2 separate regions of the Homo sapiens genome follow, and region 1 is linked to region 2. Evidence: fine-mapped expression QTL. A gene starts in region 2. The other region holds a variant in brackets. All regions are shown on one strand. Distances are between the middles of the regions. Region 1 overlaps PTCD2 (pentatricopeptide repeat domain 2). Region 2 holds the start of MAP1B (microtubule associated protein 1B).

The links. PIP is the estimated chance that this variant, and not a neighbour inherited with it, causes the effect.
Region 1: its variant is fine-mapped to the expression of MAP1B in minor salivary gland (GTEx, PIP 0.93).

The regions. Positions count from the first base shown.
Region 1 is chr5:72,360,693-72,372,759 of GRCh38, forward strand. It overlaps PTCD2 (pentatricopeptide repeat domain 2), which reads left to right. Exons shown (of 10, transcript NM_024754.5): 10 at 1-7,703. Among named protein-coding and RNA genes, the nearest start is that of PTCD2, 46 kb to the left of the region's middle. The variant G/A (reference allele first, on the strand shown) is at 7,079.
Region 2 is chr5:72,101,801-72,113,867 of GRCh38, forward strand. It overlaps MAP1B (microtubule associated protein 1B), which reads left to right and starts at 5,675. Exons shown (of 7, transcript NM_005909.5): 1 at 5,675-5,915. The coding sequence starts at 5,732. LOC105379028 (a long non-coding RNA gene) reads right to left here and starts at 11,687. Exons shown (of 3, transcript XR_007058813.1): 1 at 6,975-11,687; 2 at 6,125-6,187; 3 at 1-1,834. RefSeq lists enhancers at 5,594-6,576, 6,982-7,276.

The sequences.
Region 1 (12,067 bases), 260 kb after region 2:
TTTTTTTTTTGAGACACAATTTCACTCTGTCGCCCAGGCTGGAGTGCAGTGGTGTGATCTCAGCTCACTGCAACTTCTGCCTCCTGGGTTCAAGCAATTCTCATGCCCCAGCCTCCCAAGTAGCTGGGAATACAGTTGTGTGCCACCACACTGGCTTATTTTTTGTATTTTTTTAGTAGAGATGGGGTTTCACCATGTTGGCCAGGCTGGTCTCTAACTCTTATCCTCAAGTGATCTGCCTGCCTTGGCCTCCCAAAGTGCTGGGATTACAGGCATGAGCCACCGCACCTGGCCTACTTATCCTGTTAATGAAAATATTTGATTGGACAGAACATCTTATTCCTTAACTCTGTTATGTGCTTTTGTAGATTGTTTTTACTTACTGTAGATATCTGTTGCTCCAGAGTCCCAGAAATCAGTATGATGAGTTCAGCACAGTTACTAGAAGGAGACAAAAAGATATCTTCTTAATTAGGTGATATCAGGGATAGTTCTGGTTATTGATTGCTGTGTGGAAAACACTCCAAAACTCAGTGACTTTAAACAACACCAGTCATTGTGTTATTTCTCATTATCCTAAGTACTGACTGGGCTCAGCCAGACAGTTCTTATTCGGGTTCTCATGCAGTTATAGTCATCATCAGATTGTGGCCGCGACTGGCATAATCTCAAAGGCTTCCTTAGTATTTCTGGCAGTTGATGCTAGGACCTCAGCTAGTGCTGGGGCTGGAACATGTCTACACATAGCTTCCCCACAGCATGGTGGCTAGGTACTAGGAGTGACTGTCCCAAGAGGACCAGGCAGAAGCAGTTACATTTTATGACCTAGTCTCAGAAGTCTCATAACATCACTTCCACTAAAGTCCCAAGCCCCCCCAGATTCAAATGGAGGGAGCATATATCCCATCTCAGTGGTAGGAATTTCAAAGAATAAATTCTGTGAAACTGTAGTAGATAGTCTGTTTTCTCCCCTGTTTAAAACCTCCTGAGGACCTCACATGCTTCTGGATAAAGCTCAGGCTCTTCAACATGGTTTAGAAGGTCCTTCCTAATCTGGCCCACATTTGTCCATCCAGCTCCAACTCTTGCTACTCTACGCCCCTCTTCCCCTCTTGTGGAATGGCTAATTCCTACTCATCATTCAGGTCTTGGCTTAGACATCTTTTCATCTGAGAAGGCTTTCTGGTCTAGTCTCACCTGGTTAGGTGAACTCCCCATGTGCCCCATGTACCTCATTTATCAAAGTGCTTATCATATGCCTGTCACTGTCTGTTTTCTTCACTAGACTCAGGTGCCATGTCTGTCCTTTCTGCTCTGTTTGCTGGGTGCCTAGCATGGTAGGGGATGTATCAGAGGATTAGTACTTATTTAACTCACCAGCTCATTTAACTATATTGTATAACAATGTTGGTGGTCATATTGGTCCCCCATGGACAGCTTTTCGTCTCTAATACCATACACTCAGTGCAGGGTCTGAATGTCCCCCCAAACTCATATGTTGAACTCCAAATCCCCAAGGTGTTGGTATTAGATGATGTAGCCTTTGGGAAGGAATTAGGGTGGTGCCCTCATGAATGGGATTTGTGTCATTATAAAACAAGCCCAAAGAAATTTGGTCACCCCTTCCTTTAAGCGAGGTCATGGCAAAAAGACGCTGTCTATGAACCAGAAAATGGGCTCTCACTAGACACCAAATGCTGGTGTCTTGTTCTTGGATTTCCCAGCCTTCAGAACTGTGAGAAATATATTTCTGTTATTTATAAGCCACCCAGTTTTTGGTATTTTGTTATAGCAGCCTGAAGAGACTAAGACAGCCAGTCCCAACCTTCCACATTTAGACCTGACTCCAAGTTTTGCTCAGCCCACTGTGTATCCCTTCCTCCTCCCAACCAAAGTGTCCCCACTCTTTCTCTATTCTGTTCTGCCTATTATTCAAGGTCTAACTTGTGTCACTTTTTCAATGAGGCATTTGCAAGCTCTTTAAATTCTCAAGGATTCTCCATTAATTCACCATATCTATTTTGAGAATCTACAAAGGACAAGGCACTACGAAAGACTCTACATGCCACAGGGAAAAGACAGACAAGATCTCTGTCCCAACACAGAAAATTTTAGCCTGCCATGTTGACTCCCAGGGATCTTTTTGTTTCTGTAGGAGGTGCTCATTACAGAGTGGCCAAATTCCTACTGAAGAATGGACTTGGTTGTGAAATAAAACAATCCTGGGCAATATTTGTTGATAGTTTTGTTGAGGATGATTCAGGAAATAAATACAAACTTTTAACTACTCATAATGAATATTGTTGGGATATTATAATGAGGAGGTAAGGATTTACCTGCTACAATTTGGGTAGGCAAAAATGTAGGCTTCTCTGTTTCTTTGCAGTGAACTAAAACTTCTTATGAACTCTGGTTATACTGAAAACAGGAGTCATGGGAGACTTGATCTTGCTTAAAGGATATTTTAGTCTTTGATTTCTTTGAGGTAAATGTTCAATCTTTTTGCGTATCTTCCTCCTACCTTTTCATAGCCAAGATGACAGCTGAACAGGCTCTCATCTTAAACCTGAACAGGCATCAGAATCACTTGGAGAGCTTGTTAAAATACAGATTGATGGGCCCCACCCCCAGAATATCTGATTCCATACATATGAGTCAGGGCCCAAGAATTTGCATTACAAATGCATTCTCAGATGATGCCTTTGCTAGTCTGGGCAACACACTTTAAGAATAGTTGGTATAACAGAAAGCTTGTGTGTCTTGTGTGTCTATGTGGACAGGAGTTGTGGGCTTCAGATTCATCCTCTGTGTCCTCTGGTCTCAGTTGTGAGGAGGGGGAAGAGTGGGAAGTCTGGCCTTGTCTCTGGACTCCTGAGTAAATAATGTGCTGATGCAGTGTTGGGCCCAGCAGGCCTTTTAGAGGGTCATGCCAGCACCCACTGCTGAGGTCTGTAGTCTCTACCATCTGCCCTACACATAATAAGTACCCTTCCTCTGCTATTCTCTCTTGCTGACCCCAAGCCCACCAATGAATTAATTGAATCAAGAGTTCCAAGGCATTAGGTTAAAGACATTGAAAAATATATCCATTTATTTTTTCAAATATACATAAAGAAATCCATACAAACTAAGGCCAATTGTGGCAAAACTACATGAGACTTGACTAAAATAACCCACAATTCAAATTTCCTTCATAACATTTCTACCTATAAATTTGATTCAGAGAAATTACACTTCATAGATAAACTAGCCATAAAAAAGATTACAGCGGCAAAAGCTATCATCAGTAATATTTGATATGCATAAGAAACCGTGAGGAACCAAATCATGGTAAAATTGATTCTAAGGAAATGGTTGCACAAAAATAAAAGTGAAATGGTATTTTTTAAAAGGAAGTGGTTCAACTGTATTGCATAGAAAATGAATCAAGGAATTACATTGGCTTAAATGGCATTAGCTCAAAAAAGTGTTCTCAAAAATTAATGGAAATTGGTGTATTCTGATTGAGATATGTTTTATTCAATAACATGGAGTCAAAACAAGAAGATTTTTTAAATGTCCTCTGTTCCCATGGAGCTTGCATTCTGCAAGAGCAACAGACATCAAAAAGATAACTGGGCAAATGACCACATGATTGCAGTTGGGATAAGTGCTAAGTCTAGGGTAATCTTCATATCACCCTGTGGCATGTATAAAGGAAGACCTTTTGCTGGTGTTTTGTAAAACCAGTTGTCTGTGTCATTTATTTTAACATGTAAAGTACACTGCCTTGTATTGTTACAGATCTTTTTCTCCATATCCGGTCTCTCCTGAAGAACAGAGTATTCTACATTTGTTTTATATGACCCCAAGGTGCTTATGTAGCATATTATTTATACATCTAATGAGGTCTTAATATTTTTTGAAAGAGTGATTTCATTAATTAACGGCAGATTTTAGTTAATATGTACAGTCTGCCACAATATACTTTAGGCATTTCACAGTTTTCTCATAAACTGGTTGCTGTTTCTGTCCCGGTTTTACACATGACAGAGCCAAGACACAGACAAGTAGAATGACTTGCCTGTGCGGGGGTCCTGGGTTGGCCAGTGCATTCATGTACTGGACCAGGGCCCCTGTATCTTGCAGTAATGTATCCGTGGGCGTTTCCCCCCAGACATTCGAAGCACACAGCTAATCTGAGAAAGAAGTGATTTGGCGAGGGGTTGGGGGAGTAGGCGGTGGGCACAACGGTTCCAGGTGACTTTCAAGTTGCTAATGAAAGAGGATCAAAGCGCTGCTGAACTGCTCACCTCCCCGCTTGGCCTGCCTTGCCCAGCTGACTTTCTTCCAAGGGCCTCAGAGGCAGCATTACCACAGGCATTAAAGATGGGGATGGGGAAAGAAGGCCCAGAGGGAAAGGGAACCACATGCTTACCTGCTAATCACTGCCCTGCAGCTGAAACACTGCAGAGCTGGCTGCTCTGGGATAGGAGAGGAAGGCCTCATTTAATCAGGAGAAGAAAGAGAACCAGGGGCCTCTGAGATGGCCTGCAAGGCATCACGGTCTGTGAACTGGTCTGTGAACTGCGGGCCTGCCTGGAAATGCATTGTCAGAGTAGAGTGATGCTTTCTTTGTAAATCCCTTGTCTTCCCTGATTCCTTTTTCCTGACTGAATCAGGCCAAGATGCTCACCCAGAAGAGCACAGCATCACCCTGTCTTTCAATCCCCAAAGTAGCCCTTACCCCTAGACAGCAACATCATCTGTTACAATTGACAGCATGAAGGAAGGCATAACCCCTGCAAAGTGACTGCCCTACAACTCAATTTGATTTTGAATCCGCAAGTGCAAGTCTCATTCCTGGTAACTAATAGTAACAGAATCTGCTGATGTATTCTACCGCATCCCAGGGAGACTCATGTAGCCATGAAGACTGAAGAGGATTAAGTTAACCTTCCATTTTATAGCTGCAAATTACTGGGTTGATGTCAGGTAGGGTGAGGAGTATGTTCCGGTTATAGCTGGTAGCAAGATGGCTGCATGCATCATGAGGCTTTGGCCTAAAAAGCTTGTCATTATATAAAAAAGCTATAGAGAGCAGAGAAAATGTCATTTCCAATTTAGAAGATCATAATCGATTTTTAACACATTGGTCCTTAGGTGATACAGAATTCAACAAAAACGGGGCTTATAAAAAGCCAGGGTTCATAAAATTACAAAGATTATAGACAAAAATAGATAACATATAAGACTTACCAGCTGGGCAAGGTAGCTCAAGTTTGTAATCCCAGCACTTAGGGAGGCCGAGGCAGGCAGATCACCTGAGGTCAGGGGTTCTAGACCAGCCTGGCCAGCATGGTGAAACCCCATCTCTACTAAAAATACAAAAAAATTAGCCAGGCGTGGTGGCGGGCATCTGTAATTTCAGCTACTCAGGAGGTTGAGACGGGAGAATTGCTTGAACCTGGGAGACGGAGGTTACAGTGAGCCTAGACTGCGCCATTGCACTCTAGCCTAGGCGACAAGAGCGAAACTATGTTTCAAATAATAATAATAATAATAAGACTTACCATTTGCCAGGTCCTGTGCAAAGCACTTTATCTCATTTGATCCCTGGGAAACCCCATAAAGTACTATTATGCCATTTCTCAGATAAAGAAACTGAAGCTCAGAGACGTTTAGTTGCTTGCCTGTGGATATAACACTAGAGAGCGGGAGAGCACAGTATTTGAACCCAGGAGGTCTGATGCTGGAGGTCATGTTTTTAACCTTATCTCTGTATTGCCTGCCCAAGTGCTGGCTGTGTGCATGTATTCTCAATAATCCCTGGCCAACTTCCTGCTTTGCTGTCAGTAGCAGAGCTGAAGAACTTACAATAGACGGCAGAGGGCGTCCAGAGTCACTATTTTTAAAAGGTGCTAGTTTTCAAAAGCATTTCTGGAATTCAGAGAGAACAGAGGTCCACATAGCAGGCTAGACAGGAAAGGTAGCTGTAGATAGACTTTAGGGAGTATATAGAATATTGCCTTCACGCAGGTTAAGAAATATTTAGTGTTGAAAGGATACTTTTAAAAGAGAGAAAGCAGTAAAGTTGATCCTCTGCAGAAAGTAGACCAATGTAAGTATCATGCAATGTGTCCATGTGCGTGTACACGTGAGCACACATGCACACACACATTAGATGTTTTGTGAGAAAACATACACTCAGTTTCTTATGAAAGAAAAAGGATGGTCATTTGTCTCACTTGGGAAAGGGTTTCCTCCCAAATTGAGAAGGAAAATCCCCCCAATTAACTGTTTGCCTTTATTAACTAAAATCACATTTGTGTGTGAAAGAAGTAAAAAGGAATTAGGATCTTGGTTATTTTGATTGTCTCTCTACCCTTCCAGATTCATCAAATGATAGTCAACCTTACTGTCTCTTCCTGCCATCATCAGGAATGACTAAATCTTGGAGCGTTCTCCATTTAAGTGAGGGAAATGTTGGATTCCCGGTGTATTTATCACTGCCCATCTCTAAGAATAGGTCAAAGATGAAATTCCCATTATCATGAAACTTTAATATATATTGAGACTTCACAGAGCACTAACTATACTGGGGCTGGGATGGGGATTCTGATGAGAGATATCCCTGACAGAGACCAGAGCTCAGGAGGAAGAAAGGACAGATGCCCTTGTTCAAGATGACTTCTTCATGGGCATCGATAGATACATTCTTGAAAACCACCCAAAGTACCTAGAGGAGACCCTAGTGCAACTGTGCATTGTACAACAACTGATGAGGTAAAAGAAACAAACTGTTAATGACTCTAAACAATGTGGCCCACAGAGTTGGTATGGTTTGGCCACACCAGCTCAGGGATAAAGGTACTAGAAAAAATCTTGGGGAAAATCCTATTGTACATATTCCTTACATAATGTCTGTGATTTACCTCACTTATCAAATGAAAAAAACCCAAAACACCTGGTTGATGGCCATTTGGTCAAACACCTCTAGGAGTCTGGAGTTGAGTGGCCAGAACTCAGTCTTTCTTTACATGCTGTGTTAAGCAGGCTTTTATCTCATTCAGGTGTTAGAAGTGGAGGGAGGAACACA[G/A]TTAGGCTGTGTTCTACTGCACTGCATAGGGAGGCAGGGTATCACCCAGGCACAACGCCCACTTTGCAAGTAAATAATCAGTAGCATGAAGCTCACTTCTGCAGGACCCACCATGACAAAGTGGAGAGCTGGGCGGTTAACCAGTGAACCAATTGAGTGGCTCTGGGCTCCTATACCCCTTTCATTCCACAGCCTGTGATACACCCTTAGAGTCAAAATATCAAATTCAGTGGGCCATGAGTCTTGCCCAAAAGTATAAATCTTTTTTTCATATGGACTATTTGGGTCTATTTTCAAAAATCCCTTTTTCTTCTCTAAACTATCTCAATTCCACATTTCACTTTGCAGGTGTAGACATGACTTTTAGGTTGTTGATGATTTAATGCTATTGAAATGTTCTTATATGCAAAACACCTAGATAGATGCAGAGTGTGGGACAAAGACAACCAGCACATTGCTAAGCCCAAGTAGCAAATTTCCTGACCCCATTTTAAAGGTTCTGAGACAGATAGGCGGAATAGGTCCCCCTGTCTTTGAGTAGAAGAGTTGGCAAGCAAGCTGGACTAAATGGGCCATGTGCAATTTTGCTGTCTGTTCACATTTCAAATAAACTAATGTGTTATGATTTTTTTTTCTCCTTGAATTTTACTTCCTCTTCTTTCTCTGTTCTTCTATTTTGTGTCTTCCCCATCATTTTGTTAATGCTTCTCCCTTTGAAAAAAAAATATTTTAGGTCCCTTTTTCAGGTTCTTTTGTGACAGAGCTTGGCTTCCTGTGTTCTCACTCTTTCACTCACTGACTCAGAGTAGAGGCTGCTTTACTGGAACTTAGGAGAAGCCAGAGGTTTGCTTTCAGTCCTGTTTTCTCCCAAGCCTAAAACTCTTATTTCAAGGGAGAAGATGTGTAGGCCAAGTTGAGAAAAGCAAGCAACAAGCCTAAAAATCATTTTCCTCACCAGCTGCCCTTGGGCTACATCCTGTAGAAAGGTGACAAGGACACTTGGAGCTGTCCATTTGCTCCCCAAATGTGTCTCCCAATGCCCAGCATCTTATGCAGCCTTTGACATGAGTAAAGTCCCTCAAGGTAAGCCATGGGAAAGATCAACCTACTACACAACCATCTTTTACTGCAACCCAAGGTACATTTTAACTTTCCCAGTTTATTTGAAGGAGAATATTAACAAATATCAGTTTTTTCCCCTGGAAAACATAGAGGAAAGATTAAAAACAGAAAAATGTTTGCCAATTCAGTATTTCCAGGCCTAATATTCAGATACCACCTAATAACAATGAACTTTAGATGTAGGTTTAAAGCCCAACTCTGGAACTACATGTCTCATCCTCTACTTACAGCTTAGAAGATGCTTACTACCACAAAATTAATTATATTATACTACTACTTTCATCTTTATTGTTTTAAGTTGAAGCAGCCAAACTGCATTTGTCTGCAGCAATTAGGGAAGGAATATTCATTTGTAAGTTAATCCCAGTAACTAGTTCTTAGAATTGACAAATGAATAGAAAATGCTCAATCAAACCTCTGGGTAAGAATTTGAAGATTGTTTCAAGTGAGATCAGGGAAAATTGTGCAGCTAATTAAGACAACCATGGGAAAAGAGTGAACCATGATGTTCATTATGACTCAGTTCATAATACTTCTAGGTAAAGTCCACACTATTTGGAAAGCACTGCAGCATTCCTGGTGTCAAAACCTCCAAAAGCACATTAGAAAAGTGAAAGATGTTGGTCCATGATGAGCTCATCTAGTTATTTTAGGATTTCTGTAGTCACCTATGTTTGGTATTAAATGATGATAACGAAAATGCCTTTCATTATTTATCCCTGGTTATCATGCTTTCCATTCAAAATAATAAATAGAAAAGAAAACCAACTAACAAATAGCTCATGGCTGGATTTGTTCCAGTCAGTTCCAATAGAACCACAAGTTGCTAAAGAAATTTACCCATTGACAATAACAACAGCACAGCAGCGAATCTTGAGCCTTTCTTTCACACTTCCCACTGTCACTCGCTGTAGGGGCTCAGATTTTGAGAAATTTAACCTGCATGCAAATGTGTGACAGTGCTTTCCTGGCAACCTGTCATTTAATAAAGAATAGGAAATGAAAGGCCTCACTATTGCCACAAGGTTCCTTTTATGCAAGTTTCCATAACTTAGGGAGATGCCTTTGCTGCTTACTCTTTGTTTCCCTCATTCATACCACTTTGCATTACCTCAAAGCAAAGAAGGGGGACTGCTGGTCCCAGCAGTGAAAGGTCTCAGGAATGGGTCGAGATTCCTTTCAAGGGAAAAGGAAGGGCACCCTCAGATTAGATGTTCTCCAATCTGCCCTGGAACACTGAGCTGGAGCCCCAGAAACCACTGCCTAATAACAATAATTTGCATACCAAATATATTAAAGTCCTAGAAAGTCTGAAGAATACCATTTGCTTAAAGTTTAAGTAACCTCAGCAGCACTTAAGACCAAGGACTGGAATGTACAGCTGTGCAAGTCATACCCCAACTACAGGCATGTGGCAGAGGTGGGGAGTGGAGGCCAGGATCCAAGGCTGCTGCTGCCAACAGGGAGAGGCACCTTTCACTAATTCACCCAAACCCACATGTGGATGAATGGAGGCCATGAAAAGTCACCTGAACTCTTCTGCTTGATGGTGAGAATGTGGAACATGGCATCCCTCTCCCAAAGCCCCCAAGGCTTCTCAGCACCCTGAGCATCAACTCCGAAGTCCAAGTGCTAACATGCCCTGAGCCCACTGACCTCTCTAACCTCAGCTTCCCCACACCTTCCGTGCGTTATTCCTGCACCCTGGTCTTCTTTCTGTTCCTTGAAGACACCAGCACATTCCTGCTTCAGGGCGTTTGCACTTGCTGTTCCCTCTGGCTCAGTCCTGCATGTCATTCAGGTGCCTGATCAAATGTCACCTCCTCAGAGAGGCCTTCCCTGACCACCTAGTCTAAATTGCACCTTTCCTCCTCTCTATCCCTTATCTTGCCTTTAAAAAAAATATATAGCACTTACTACTTGAATTTTATATTTGTTTGTCAATGATTTGTCTTCTCGCTAGAAGAAGAGTTGGCAAATTACAGCCTGAGGGCTACGTCATACAAGCTGCCTACTTTTGTAAGTCAAGTTGCATTGGGGCACGGACACTATCATCTGTTTGCACATTGTCTTTGTTGGCCTTCACACTGCAATAGAGACTACATGGTCCACAAAGCTGAAAATATTGATCATCTGGCCTTTTACAGAAAAAGTTTGCCAACCCCTGCTCTAGACTGTAAGCCCCATGAGGGCAGGGACTCTGCCTTTTGTGTCCACACCTGTATCCCCAGCACAGAATATTGCCTGGCACTTAGGTACTCAATATCCACTGGATGCCAGTAGCAGTCCCCAAGTCCTGACAACCAAAAATGTCTCCCAACTTTGTCAAATGCTTTATGAGGGGCAATATCACCCGCTGGGGAGAACTGCTACATTAGCCTGAGTCAGGAAGACACTGGGCAGCTTGAAAGTGAAGTAGGTTAAGAACTCGCGGCCGGGCACGGTGGCTCACACCTGTAATCCCAGCACTTTGGGAGGCCAAGGCGGGCGGATCACGAGGTCAAGATACTAGTGATCAACCAGTCTGGCCAACATAGTGACACCCCATCTCTACTAAAAATACAAAAAATTAGCTGGGTGTGGTGGTGTGCACCTGTAATCCCGGCTACTCAGGAGGCTGAGGCAGGGGAATCGCTTGAACCTGGGAAGCGGAGGTTGCAGTGAGCTGAGATCACACCATTGCACTCCATCCTGGGCGACAGTCCGAGACTCCGTCTCAAAAACAAAACAAAACAAAACAAAACAAAATAAAAAAAGAACTCGCAGATGCCGCACGGGGGAAGGGGTCTATTGAAAGCCTGAGGTGATTGGGCCTCGGCTTTCTCTTGGCTTCTTTTGCTCTTGAATAAAAACCGCTGTGCCTCTTCATCTCCAGATGATCACCCAACATGATTATGACAAGTAACCGTAGAATTTGAAGAATGAACCTTAGCTACTTCCTCGCTTGGTTACCCAACCGGCCTTTCTTCCTGGGACCCATGGGGTCTGTATTATACTGAAAACCGCTGCTGAGTTCAATATGCACGAGAACAATTGAATCCTAGTAATCAATAAAAAAGAACTAGTTATTGATAAATGCAACAACATGGATGAATCTGAAAGGTGTGATACTGAGGAAAATAAGGCTGTCTCAGAAGCTGCATACTGGCTGATGCCAATACATAATTGGCAAGTGTCATTTACATGACTTTCTGGAAAAGGCAAAACAATAAAGAGAACAGATCAGTGGTTACAAGTTTTCGGTGGGGGAGAGTGTGACTACAGAAGGCAGCATGAGAGTTTTGGGGGATGATGAAACGGTTACATATCCTGATTGTGGTGGTGGTTACATGAATCCATACATGCATTAAAACTCATAAAACTGTACACCAAGAAAATGATTTTACTGTATGTTAATTAAAGAGCAAAACAAGTAGTCTTTGAAGAATACGATGGGCTTTTAATACTTGCCCATCTTCTTCTAACCACAATAAAATATTGAAAGCCATAATTTAAAAAATGCACCAGGCAACAAGGCCTTGACTATTGGTGGCAATTGAAAAGCTCAAGAGGAGAGGAGAAAGTCGATATTCTGGAACTACATGAAGAACTTTAGCTTCCTTGCTTCAATTCCTCTTTCACTTTCCATAGAACAAGGTGATCTTCACTTCTCAATCCAGGATTACCAAATTCCACCCCAGAATTGTCTGGGTTTTCTTGATGAGAAGAGAGAAAATGACTTTAGAAATCAATAGATACTGGAACAGATGTGCCAGTACACTTTGAGGTTGTGCACAGGTCACAATATTTTGTCTGATGCTCTTGTGCAGATGAAAGGGGCTCAGGGAAGTGATAAGGAAGAGCATAAAGGAGTGTGTGGGGTTAGCT
Region 2 (12,067 bases):
TCATTGTGGCTGATGCTGGAAAGTAAGGGCAAGTGGAGGGGCCAGATGAAGCTGCTGAGATAAATGGGGACCAGCTTGTAGGTGACACTGAGAAGTCTGGTCTTTATTCTAAAATGGGGAGCCATTTGTGTTTTAAGTGGAGATGGGGCAACAAAACCAGATCAGAAAAGATCATTCTCCATATTGTGTGAAGCATGGATTGGGTGAGTCATTGTGGATATACAGATGCCAGTAAGGTGACTATTGAGGTTGCATGGGAAAAAAAAATAGCTAGACCTACTGTTTACAATATAAATTAAACTGGAAATAGCTCAAATGTTCACCAACAATGGACTGGTTGAGTAAATTATAGTAAATAAACATAATGGGTTACTATGCAGCTATAAATAAAAATGAGGAATATTAACATATATTATTGTAGCGTTATAGCCGGGATATAGTGTTTGATGAAATAAGCAAAGTGGAGAAAATTGTATGTATATGCTGCTACTTGCATTTTTAAAGTGAAAGGCTAAATCAAGGTAAAAAATTGTTACTCACAGGAAGAGACAGGGAGAAAGCTGGAGGGGACAGGGATAGAGGCTAAAGTTCTCCAAATACAAATTGTTTTGTAGATTTCACCTTGGAACCATGTAAATATTTTACATTACTATAAAGCAAAATTAAATTGTAAAAATCAATTCATAAAAACTGAAAACAAAATGAAACAAATGAACATAACTATGCACTGAGTTAGTGGCACGATCATATATAACAGAATTAATTACACTTTAAAACTATATAGCTTAGGCTGGGCACGGTGGCTCACACCTATAATCCCAGCACTTTGGTAGGCTGAGGCGGGCAGATCATCTGAGGTCAGGAGTTTGAGACCAGCCTGGCCAACATGGCGAAACCCCATCTCTACTAAAGGTACAAAAATTAGCCAGGCATGGTGGTGGGTGCCTGTAATCCCAGCTACTGAGAAGGCTGAGGCAGGAGAATCGCTTGAACCTGGGAGGCAGAGGTTGCAGTGAGCCGAGATGGCGCCACTGCACTCCAGCCTGGGCAACAAGAGTGAGAATCGGTCTCAAAAAAAAAAAAAAAAAAAAAACAAAAACAAAAAAAACAACCAACCAACCAAACAAACAAACAAACAAAAAAACTATATACCTTAAAATGTTTTTAGTAATCACATTGTTGGCAAAAGTGTTGCATTCGTATCTAAAACTACCATGAGGGTAATTTGTATATATTGTGGAACAAGAAAAATGAGAAACTATCTGCTGTTCTAATTCTGTCACCTTGGAGTCTTTGAAAACTGGAATTCTAGGCATAGGACAAAGGAAATACAGATGCAAGATAAAACGTTAGGCAAAATCCCTGTAGTCCCGATTCTGAGTTAGAGGTATAAGTATGAACTCATACTTGAAAAACAATTTATTTCATATTTCTGTCCACTGAAAATATCTAGAAACAATGATCAAAATAGTAGTAGCACCTGGTATACAGGGGTCTCCAAATACCATTACCCACGTAAGGAACTTGGATTCCATAGAGAAACGGCTCATTCCAGGTTCTGAGGCCAGATATGTGCAAGGTAAGCTAGGGATACCTTACCATACTACTGGCCAAAGATGAAAAAATGAAAGCATCAATATGAATAATGTAAGTTATATTTGTAATGATACAAAAAATTAGTCACCTTTAGAGAATGATTTGGAATAAATTAATTATTTTGAAAATCAGTAAATAAAGAGAAAAAATCATTTGTTTATCCTTCTTTTCCTGTACATACCGTACCTCAGGGTAATCAACTGACAGGATAACGCTTCTCCTAACAGAAGTCTTCTAGCTGTCAAATAAATAATAACAAAATTAGAATATTATCATTTTTTCAATCCATAGTGAAATAATGGATCTAGGTAATGATCATCAATAGCTGCTAAAATCACAGAATGAGGGTTAACTAGTCTTTAGGTGCCTTCTGATGGAAGATCACAATATTACCTATGAAGTATACATGTAAAAAATATCAAATCTGCATCTGATCAAGACTTTAGTTCTCTCAGAAAATTCAGAAGATAGAAGAACATGTTAAATAACACAACAGGTGATGCAATCGGCAAAATTTATGCTTTGTGAAACTCTGCTGAACAATGTTGCCACTATTCAACAGAAAATTACAAGGAAAAAAATAGCAGGATTACATAGATCAAAGGAGTTTAAGACTGATGAATCAGTTGAAATATATAGACATTATTTCAATCTTGATTTAAAGAAGCAAACTATAAAAATCTATGGATTGGGGATAATGGGTATGTGGGTGTTACTTACATTATACTCTCTCTGTTTGAAATTTTCCATAGTAAAATGTTAAACAATAACAGCCAAAAACAACTAACCCCATACCAAAAACAACTAATCCCTATTAAGTGCTCATTATATGCAAGGCACTGTTTTAAGTAATTTGCATATTTAAACTGTCCTCCTGTCCATGAGGTCGGTACTCATCTCTACTATACAAATGAGAAAACCAAGGTATAGAGTGGTTAAGCACCTTGCTTAAGGCCACACAGCTAATAAATTATGGTATTAGGATTCAAAACCAGGCAGTCTGACTCCAGAACCCATTTTCTAACCGGTACACTAGTACCTATCACAATGATGCTAGCTTGGACTAGGTTGGTGATAATGGAGAAACGTGGATGGATTGAAGAGATACTGAAGGTGAAATTGACCAGACTCCATGCTGGATTGCACACGAGGCTAAGGGTCAGGGGAGAGTCCAAAATATTTGTGAGGTTTTGGTTTGCATCATGGGATACATGGTGTTATGGTTCATTGAAATAACAAGAATGAGAGAGGATCCCGTTTAGAGGTAAAAGATGATTTGGGTTTGGAGCATGTCAAGATTCTGGTGCCTTTGGTATATCCAGGTGATGTCAGTTGAGCAGCTGGCAATATTGGTGCTCTTATATGTTAGTTTTCCCCCTTTTTCCTCCTTAGAACTGTATACATTTTCTTGGGATGAAGAGGGGAAGGGGCTACTTTTCTAGTATTGAAGTATAATAATGTAATATTCTGTTCTTGTTTCAGAGGTGTTGTAGCAGTATCACTTGCACATTTTATAAGACTGCTTTTGCTCCATTGTCTTAGTAACTGGGAGAAAACAGGTCAATGAATCAACCATCCCTTGATTGCTTACTATGCCCAGCCACTGTATTAGGTGCTTACACATTCTATCATTTCCTTCTTTCTTACAGTTACTTTAACAGTTATAAAGATGTTCTTCTTCTCATTAAATAAGGAGATGGAAGATCAAAAAGAGTAAGTCACTTGCCAAAGTTACCGAGCTGTAAAGTAGTATTCTGCATCCCTAGTCTGTGTTCTCCCATTATGCCTCTATTTTTCAAAGTGTGGGTGATGACTTAGGTGGTCACGGTCATGGTGTTTAATTGCACAGACACACACAGTAAGAAAGCGCTCTGTTATAATTTTCATCCAATCTTCTGTTGCAACATGGAGAACAACTCAGTTAGGTGTTAGTATCTCTTTAATACCTCTCTAACACTTGGCCAATCTCTGTTTTCAACCAAGAAAGGAGAGCCTTGGACTCAGAGTCTTGAGCAAATCATAACAGTATGTAGCAGGAATTTGATCACATCTTATCTTCATTGTGTATATTTTTAGGGATACTTTCTATTAATAAGTGATATTAGTGTTTCCATTTATACAGCAACATAGAATTGCATTTAAAAATAAATTTAAGTAAAAGAAATAAACTGCATAAAAGAAAACTATTACATACATAAAAGTAACAATGGTTCAAAGAAAGGAAAACCAAACACAAACTAGATGAGGCTGGAATCCAACGGATGACCTTTAGAAAACAGTGCTCTTCACCATATTTCCTGCCCCTCACCCCAGTTATGGGCTTTGGTGCTGGCCTTACTTCTTGAACAGCAATTGAATATCTTAACCAAAATATTATCTGGAAACACTTCATCTAGTTACTGGTGAATGCAGCTAGTTGGAAACACTTCATCTAATTACTGGTGAATGCAACTCTCTAGTGATCCTGTCACAGATCCCAAATACTGCGGGCCAGACGGTATTTTCATTCTGCATTGATCAGATTGACATGTTGGATGGAACCCCCCAGCCCTTGGCTGCCCAGCATGTCTCCCATGCCAGGGTGTCAGGAAAGATATAAGAGCAAAGAGTACATGACCAATAAGTCATGGCAGCTAACACCTAAGACACTGGGTTATTTTGGAAATCTTAAGAATATCTAGGTGATTATCTATCTATCTATCTATCTATCTATCTATCTATCTATCTATCATCTATATTTTACTAACAGGCATTCTAGTATTAAAGCTATGTTGACTAATTTCCATCTATTCCTCTTCCTTAAAGCTCGAATTCCCCAGTCTTCTATGATACCATGTTTGCACATTTTGCTCTTTCCTCACCCTCCTCCCCTTTTCTGGGACAGAAGCTATATTCAGTATGTTTGTGAGAAACGGTTGTAAATAGGCTGCCTTAAAAAAAAAAACAAAAAAACAAAAACAAAAAACACATTTTTTAGTTCTTCTAAACACAAACAAAGGCAATAAAAATTCCCAATGCTACAGGTATTTTAAAAGACATCATTGTCACGAGGTAATTTTGCTTGTGTGTTCCCCAAGGAACTGAAAAGTACATTATAGTCACTGTAACCCTGCTGAGTAGAGACAGTATCTTCTCTTTATTCTTTGTTATTACTGATACTATCTGTTCAGCACATTAAGGAAAGAAATTGGTATCTAATATAATACATCTGCATTTCTCTCATTTCCCATGAGCACCACAAAGCCAGTACTTTTTCATCCTTGGCCCTGCCAGAGTAGAATCCAAGGCCTGAACAATAGTAGGCTTAAGTTTTGCATTTTTGATGTATTCTTTAAGTGAAGGTGGTAAATATTGATATTGGTAAATATCAGTAAATTCGTCTTCTTAAAGCCACAAGGTCAAAGAAAAGACAGGTTCCGTCTTCCTAGGCGGGGTACCCACAGCCCCGCATCTGCCCACTGTGGCTATCCCAGTTCCTGAGAACCTGGCTACATCATACACAGCACACAAGGCAGAGGCCTGACTAGTGCAACTCCAACAAGAGAAAAGACCCCCACTCCGAAAATGGAAACTCATCCCATTCCCATGCACAGACAGGGTGAGGGTGAGGAGTGGGCAGTGGGTGTGTACGTGGTGGGTGGTGTAGGTTGAGAGCGTCTTCCCCCTTCACGGCTGCAGCAGGAGCTCAGCGGGCGCCCCAGCCCCTTGGCTCGCGGCCCTGCCCCGACCATTGTCCGCACACCTCGTCCCTCCAGCTTCCGGGCCGCGGGCGAGATGATTTGCTGCAGATGACATCAGCCCCGGGCCAACGGCTGGAAGAGCGGAGGCAGCCACCGCGTGAGGATGTGCCGGGTGGTCCTTTCCTCCTCCTCTTCCTCCTCCTCCCGGCTCCCTGCCTAGTCTCCATATAAAAGCGGCGCCGCCTCCCCGCCCTCTCTCACTCCCCGCTCCTCTCCGCCGCGCACTCTCCGCGGCGCTGGGAGAGGGCGGAGGGGGAGGCGGCGCGCGGCGCCAGAGGAGGGGGGACGCAGGGGGCGGAGCGGAGACAGTACCTTCGGAGATAATCCTTTCTCCTGCCGCAGTGGAGAGGAGCGGCCGGAGCGAGACACTTCGCCGAGGCACAGCAGCCGGCAGGATGGCGACCGTGGTGGTGGAAGCCACCGAGCCGGAGCCGTCCGGCAGCATCGCCAACCCGGCGGCGTCCACCTCGCCTAGCCTGTCGCACCGCTTCCTTGACAGCAAGTTCTACTTGCTGGTGGTCGTCGGCGAGATCGTGACCGAGGAGCACCTGCGGCGTGCCATCGGCAACATCGAGCTCGGTAAGTGGCCCCGCGCCCCCAGAGACGCGCGCTGGGAGACGCGCAAACACGACCCCACCCAGGGCGCGACGGTCACTGCGCTCCTCCCGCGCGCCCCGCACCCATGCCTCTCCTCGTCACCTCTCATACTTGGTCCAGACCCTTTCTGGGCTAATTAAGAATAATCCGAATTATTAGATATGAGACCCAGAGGGAGAGTCTCCAATAACCTTGAGGGATCTGTCACCACGCTGAGTCCGCAGCCTGTGCTGAGTTGGCCACCGCCTCTCCCGCTAAGTGAAATGCAGGTGTCAGGGGAGCAGAGGCCACAATAAAGCCGCAACCGCAGGAGGCAGAAGGGTGGGGGAGACCTGATGCAACCACTCCTTTCAGTCCTCTTCTGGCCTCAGGAAAAGGCTGGGACCCCCACCACCGCAGACCTGGGGCCGAAGCCCATGTGCCAGGGCCCGCGTGGGATTCATCCTCACCACGGCTACCTCAGCCCCTGAGAAACGCCTTTTCTGATTTCAAACCTCCCGATCCTTTCTTTCCTCAGAATGACTAGGCTAGTCCTAGGGCCACGCCCGCTCCCCCCGCCCCCCCCTCCCCGGGGAGATGCTGGGATGCAGAACCGCCTGCGCTTCGCCACCAGACAGAGCCCGCCTCGCTACCGCCCTTGGGGCCTTGGCTGCAGCTCTCAGAAAGGACAATGGGACCCCAAGTTGCGGGGTGGGGCTGCTGCTTTTAGAAGTCCCAGCCTCGGGAGTGGTAGCTTGAAGGGGGTCGGTGAGGGAGACGTCAGCGGGTAGGGTCAGCTCCTCGCCCGGTGCTCGCACCAGTGGCGCGCTCTGCGGAGGCCGAATAGCGGTACGCCGGGGACCCTGGGCGGGGCCGTGAGGGTCCGGCGGGCACAGCCTCGGGCGCACAGAGAGACCGCCCCCAGCCCCACCCGAGCTGCCGCAGTGCCTCCGGACCGCCCGCCACACCTGCCCCCCCACACTGCGGCGCCCCCGTCGGGCACGGCTGGCTGGGCTTGCGCTCCGCCCGGGCCTCGGGCTGGCGGGGGCCGCGCGCCCCCACCTCTCAGTTTGCCTGGCTTTGTTGCCCTGGGAGTCCCTGGGTGGGCAGCTCTGGTCTCTGCCTTTCCCTTTATCCCTGGCGTCCCGGCCCTCCCCTCGCTCCTGACAGAGGTCGCCGGGTCCCTCCGCAGCCCCAGCCCGCGCTCTATTCTCCTGGGGTGGTGCTGAAGCGTTTCTCCGGGAGACACCGGTTGGTGGGCGTGGTGCAGTCCGCACTGCGGTCTCTACGGCAGCCCGAGGCGGACAAAGGGCGTTCACGCAGCCCTCGTTCCCCACTCCCCCTCCCCAATAAAAGACGAAAGAAAAACCTTGTTTTAGATGAAAAAATAAATGCTTGTCATCTGCCTCTGCAGTTGGAAACGGCCACTTGTCCCCAGAACAAAAGGCTGCAGGGTGGGGACTGGAGTTGCAGACCTGGTTCTTTTGTTTAACTTTAAAGCACTTGATTTTCCCTTTTAGCTTAAAAAAAAAAAAGAAAAAAAATGTGAGCAGAAAGTCATAGTATTTTATTCCAAAAAATTCAAGAACAAGAGATATTTCAGTAGTGAAATGTCTTATTTGAGCATCTCAATAACCCTTCATTTTCAGACTATATAGGCCTTTGGTCTAATCTGTTCTAATTTAGTTTATTTGCACAATTTTCTCCTGGAAAAATTTTACACATACTGACTTTGGGTGTGGCTATTGTGGGAATCAATGACTTTGGATTTTTTTCTTTAAAAAATTATTTGTAAGTAGCATTTCTGGGAAATAGGAATATATTAGGAGGTGCTTTTCTATCTACAAAATCTTCATAACCATTCGATGTGGTGGTGCTAGGAGAGGGATCATCAACCCCGTTTTAGAGCTGGGGGCCCAGAGAGGCAGGAAGGGTAAGAGAACCGGCTCAAGGTCACAGCACTCATAAGTGACAGAAGTACCAGTACTGCAGCGTCACTCGTTTTCTGACCCTGTCATGATGTTAGTGCAGGGTTGGCTAACATCCTATGATGGGAGGAAGGTTTCAGTACAACAGTTTTCAGGGCTTGCCTTTGTATGGCCATCCACTTGTGGGCAGCGCCCCATGCTGGGAGATGGTTCAGCAATCACCTTCGGATCGTAATTATCTTCCTGCTTTGTTACTCATCTGATCATCCTTTCAGCGCCCTATTCCTCAGAGGGTTTATACAAGCTGCATCTATTTATGGAGAAAACAGACGCATCCACGTACTGCTATGAAGAAGGGCTCCCTGCCTTTACTCGTTTTTACACTACTAGCACTTAGTGACAAAATTCAGATTTGTCTTCTTGACATTAATTTTTTAAAAAATTCGGTTGAAGTATTATATAGAGAGGAAAGGGCACAAATCAAAGATGAGCAGCTCAACGAATTTTCACAAAACGGACACGCCTGGGTTACCCAGATCAAGAAACAGACATTACTGGAACCCCAGAAGCCCCCTTGTGTTCCCTTTGCAATAGACATCATGGCTTCCTGATTTTTTAATTCCCTAATTTGGTCAGGTTTTTGCATGGAACTCCGAAATGACTGTATTGATCCCATTAAGAATCAACCAAGTGAGTGAGCAGAGCCGTTTCTTTACACACCGTAGCAGATGCTGCTTTTCCTCTGAAGATGGCTCTCCTGGGTTCTGGGGTCTTGGCTGCAGCTCAAGATGCAGGCCCTTCCAGCGCTAAGTGAAAATCCTGCTCCCATAGCTTTTCAGACAGTCTGAGATGACTTAGCAACAGAGCAGGCTGGTCCTGTTTTCCTGTGCACGACAAGCTGCTGCTTCAGCCGCCAGGTCTCAGCTGGGCCTCCTCCAGAGGCCACTGCTGTTGTTGCTTGGTGCCTTTGGGCCTTGTTGTGTGAAGCAAGATGGAGCTGCTCCAGGGGGGCCAGCTCTGATGATTGTGTGTTGCAGGCTGGGAAGGCAGTTCCGCATCTGTTACTCTTTCTTCCTATTTCCCCTCCTGCCTTAACTGAGATTCTGGGTTTGGAGACCCTGGCGACTTGGATTCTTGCCATCCGATTACTGAGGGCTCTCTGGGAAGCCTAGAAAATAATCTATAAATCTGTAGAGACATGGTGGTAATGCAGTAAATCAACAGGCCTGGAACGTCCCAATGTGGATGCTTCGTAAATGCCTCTTGAAACCAGGGAAGAGAGATGGTCCCTCTTGCTTTCTCAACTATATTCGGAAAGCATAATGAAAGCTTTGGACATGTCTCCTCCAGAGTTTGGAACAATAGTGTTTCCTCGGACTAGGCTAGCTTCATTTATTTAGTTATGCAGGACTTTATTCCAAATCGTTTTCGCTACCACCAACTACTACTCTTTGGCACCTCCTTTTTCTCCTCCCTAATTAGCCCCCAGCATGGATTTAGCTAGTGGTTCTCATTTTCAGCAAAACCCTGCTTCTTGGTTTTATTTTAATACATAGAGGACATACATCCGTGTCTTGCAAACTGAATTCTAGAGCCTTGTGAACGTTTTCATTGTTTCATTTTTTTTTTAAGGAACTAAAACATATAAAGAATATTAAGTGTCTGTTGGATGTTTTCAATTACCGTTAGATTATAACTTTTCCTTTAGTTAACACTGGGAATCAGCAAGATTTGTTGGTGAAAAGATAGATGAATGTAACATCTACTGCTCTGCATTTTTAGATAAAAGTTTAGCTGATTACATTGTTACATTCTGATGTCACTTAACTGAATGTCCTTCAGTCTAAGATGGTAAGAGAATTTAAAACCCAGGAAAGATTTGGGGTTTAGTTTTCCTTTTCTTTTAACAGGGGAAATAAGAAACCAATACCATATGTGGTGAGAATTAAATGTTAGAGAGTCTTAAATTTACTATATTTGCCTATACTTTTCAAAGTCGAAGACAGATGGATTTCTGCTTGCACTGCTTAATTGGTATTATCTACGACAGCTCTGTGATCCATGCTGAAACACAAGGCAGTCCCCAAATTTAAGGTCATTAAATTGTTCACCTTCTCTAAGGGCTTACTTTAAAAAAATAAGTTATAACTTTTTAGACAAGCAAATAATTATGTCACTTCTCATTTGCTTGTGTTGTAAGATGTTATCTCAGACCTAAATTATTTATTATCAATGCTTTGAAACTATGAGCTCTGTATGTAAGATATTATCGTCATTACATACATATGTTATGAACATCAAGTTGCTGGCTTTAAAAAAAGAAAAAAAGCAAATTAAAGATGAGTTCAAGGGAAAAAATAAGAATTTTTTCCTCTGAGAAATAAAGCATTCCTAAATGTAGCATTTCCTTTAGTTCATTTATTTAGTTTATGATTTCAATCTGATTTCAGACCACTTTTTAGCATAGTTTTACAAATATAATCTTATGATTCTAGGTTAATGATTTAGGTACTTGGAAAAAATATCCAAAAGCCTGTTTTTCAGAGGGAGCAACTAAAGCCCATAAAGGAAAATCAACTTGCCAAAGGCCCAAATAACTGTCAGATAGAACCCATGTGCCATCAACATACAATGCATGGTCATTTCATTTTGCTTTCTTCAATCCACTGTCACCTTTAGAAATATGAATTTTAGCTTTTAAATGGGAGGTGCTTTTTTAAATTGTTGGTTTCATTAAACAACCCTGCAAAATGCTTACATGATTGGAAAACTTGGAACAATCTAGCCTGTACACACCAAGAGTACCTGACTTCTCCTCATTTTTCACCCTGACTTGTTCTTTAATGACCCCTCCCTGCCTCCCTGCCCCATAACCTATTCTTTTCTCCTTTTCTCATCTGTGTATATCATGTGCATGTCAGCCTCCCTTGTGTGCACTGCTACCACCTGGGGTCAGAGAACTGAGAAGGAAAGATCTTTTGTTGCTCCCTGGTCCCAAGGAGCTCACTTTCAGGGCTGGGCAATAGCCACAGAGCAGGCCCAGATTGTTCTCAGAGATGACGGATGCCTTTTGGCTCCAGACATTGAAAGAATGGGGTTCACTGCCTCCAACTGCCTGGAGTTATTCTGCCCCCACCTGGGTAAGCCCAGAAGGGGTACAGTCTTAGAATGCTGGGGAAACAAAGCCTCCAGGAAGAGCTTGACTTGGTGTATATTGGGGTGAAAATTAGAAAGAGGGCTTCCCTGCTCCCCAACAGAGACCAGGATGACTTGCTTCTGAAAGCCTCTTTAGAACCTCTTCACCAACACCCCAGGATGCCCTCCAGCCAGATTCAGAGAGGGGAGAATATGGGAAGGGCCAAAGAGATATTTTTCTGTCCTGTAAACTTTAGAGGGCTCACTGTTGGCTCCTTGTTAGGCACAAAGGGGAACTACATAAACCTACTAAATGCAATATGAACCTTCATTAACAACTACTCTTTGCCTTTACCAATATTATCCAGCAGGAGATACAAAGTAATTACAAATTATTTTATTTCTAAAATTGGTATGGAAAGTGGCCTGATTCCAAAATTTTCCTTTCCAACTAAAATAGCTGGCAAATCCAACATAACCTTTATTTTATAAGTGGTAGTAGTGGTTGTGCATTGCTAAGAAACAATTTGGGTGGAAATTGCTCTCTTGAAAAAAGAACCCTACATTTTTAGTTTCATTGGGAGTGTAAAAATGAGAAATATTTTTATCAGCCGTTTACTAGTATAATTTAGAAATTACTAAGTGGATTTATCATTTAGTACTTTTTCTATTGCTAAATTACAAATATGTCAAAAATAAAATATGTATGAAAATATAAAGCAAACATTTAATTGTGTGTGCCATGACAAGTTAACTGAAGCCAAGGGAAAATGGCAAGTAACAATGTAAGAGCAAGTCTGCAGATAACCCTGGATGAAGTCATTCAAATAATGTACCAATTTAGACATTACTTAGAACAAAGACAGAAAAATTGTATGAATTTAATTTAAATGCATATGTCTCATTATTAACTTATTGACCCAGCTTGACAGGGTAGAAGACAAAGTAGAGCTCAGACCTGGAACAAGGAGAATTCAGTCAACAATACCAATTAAGCAGCTCAGACAGGAACTCGATTTTTTTGCACTAGACTAGTATATAGTGTATACATTGAAGTAAAATATTCTAATGAATTCAGACCTCTCAACCTGT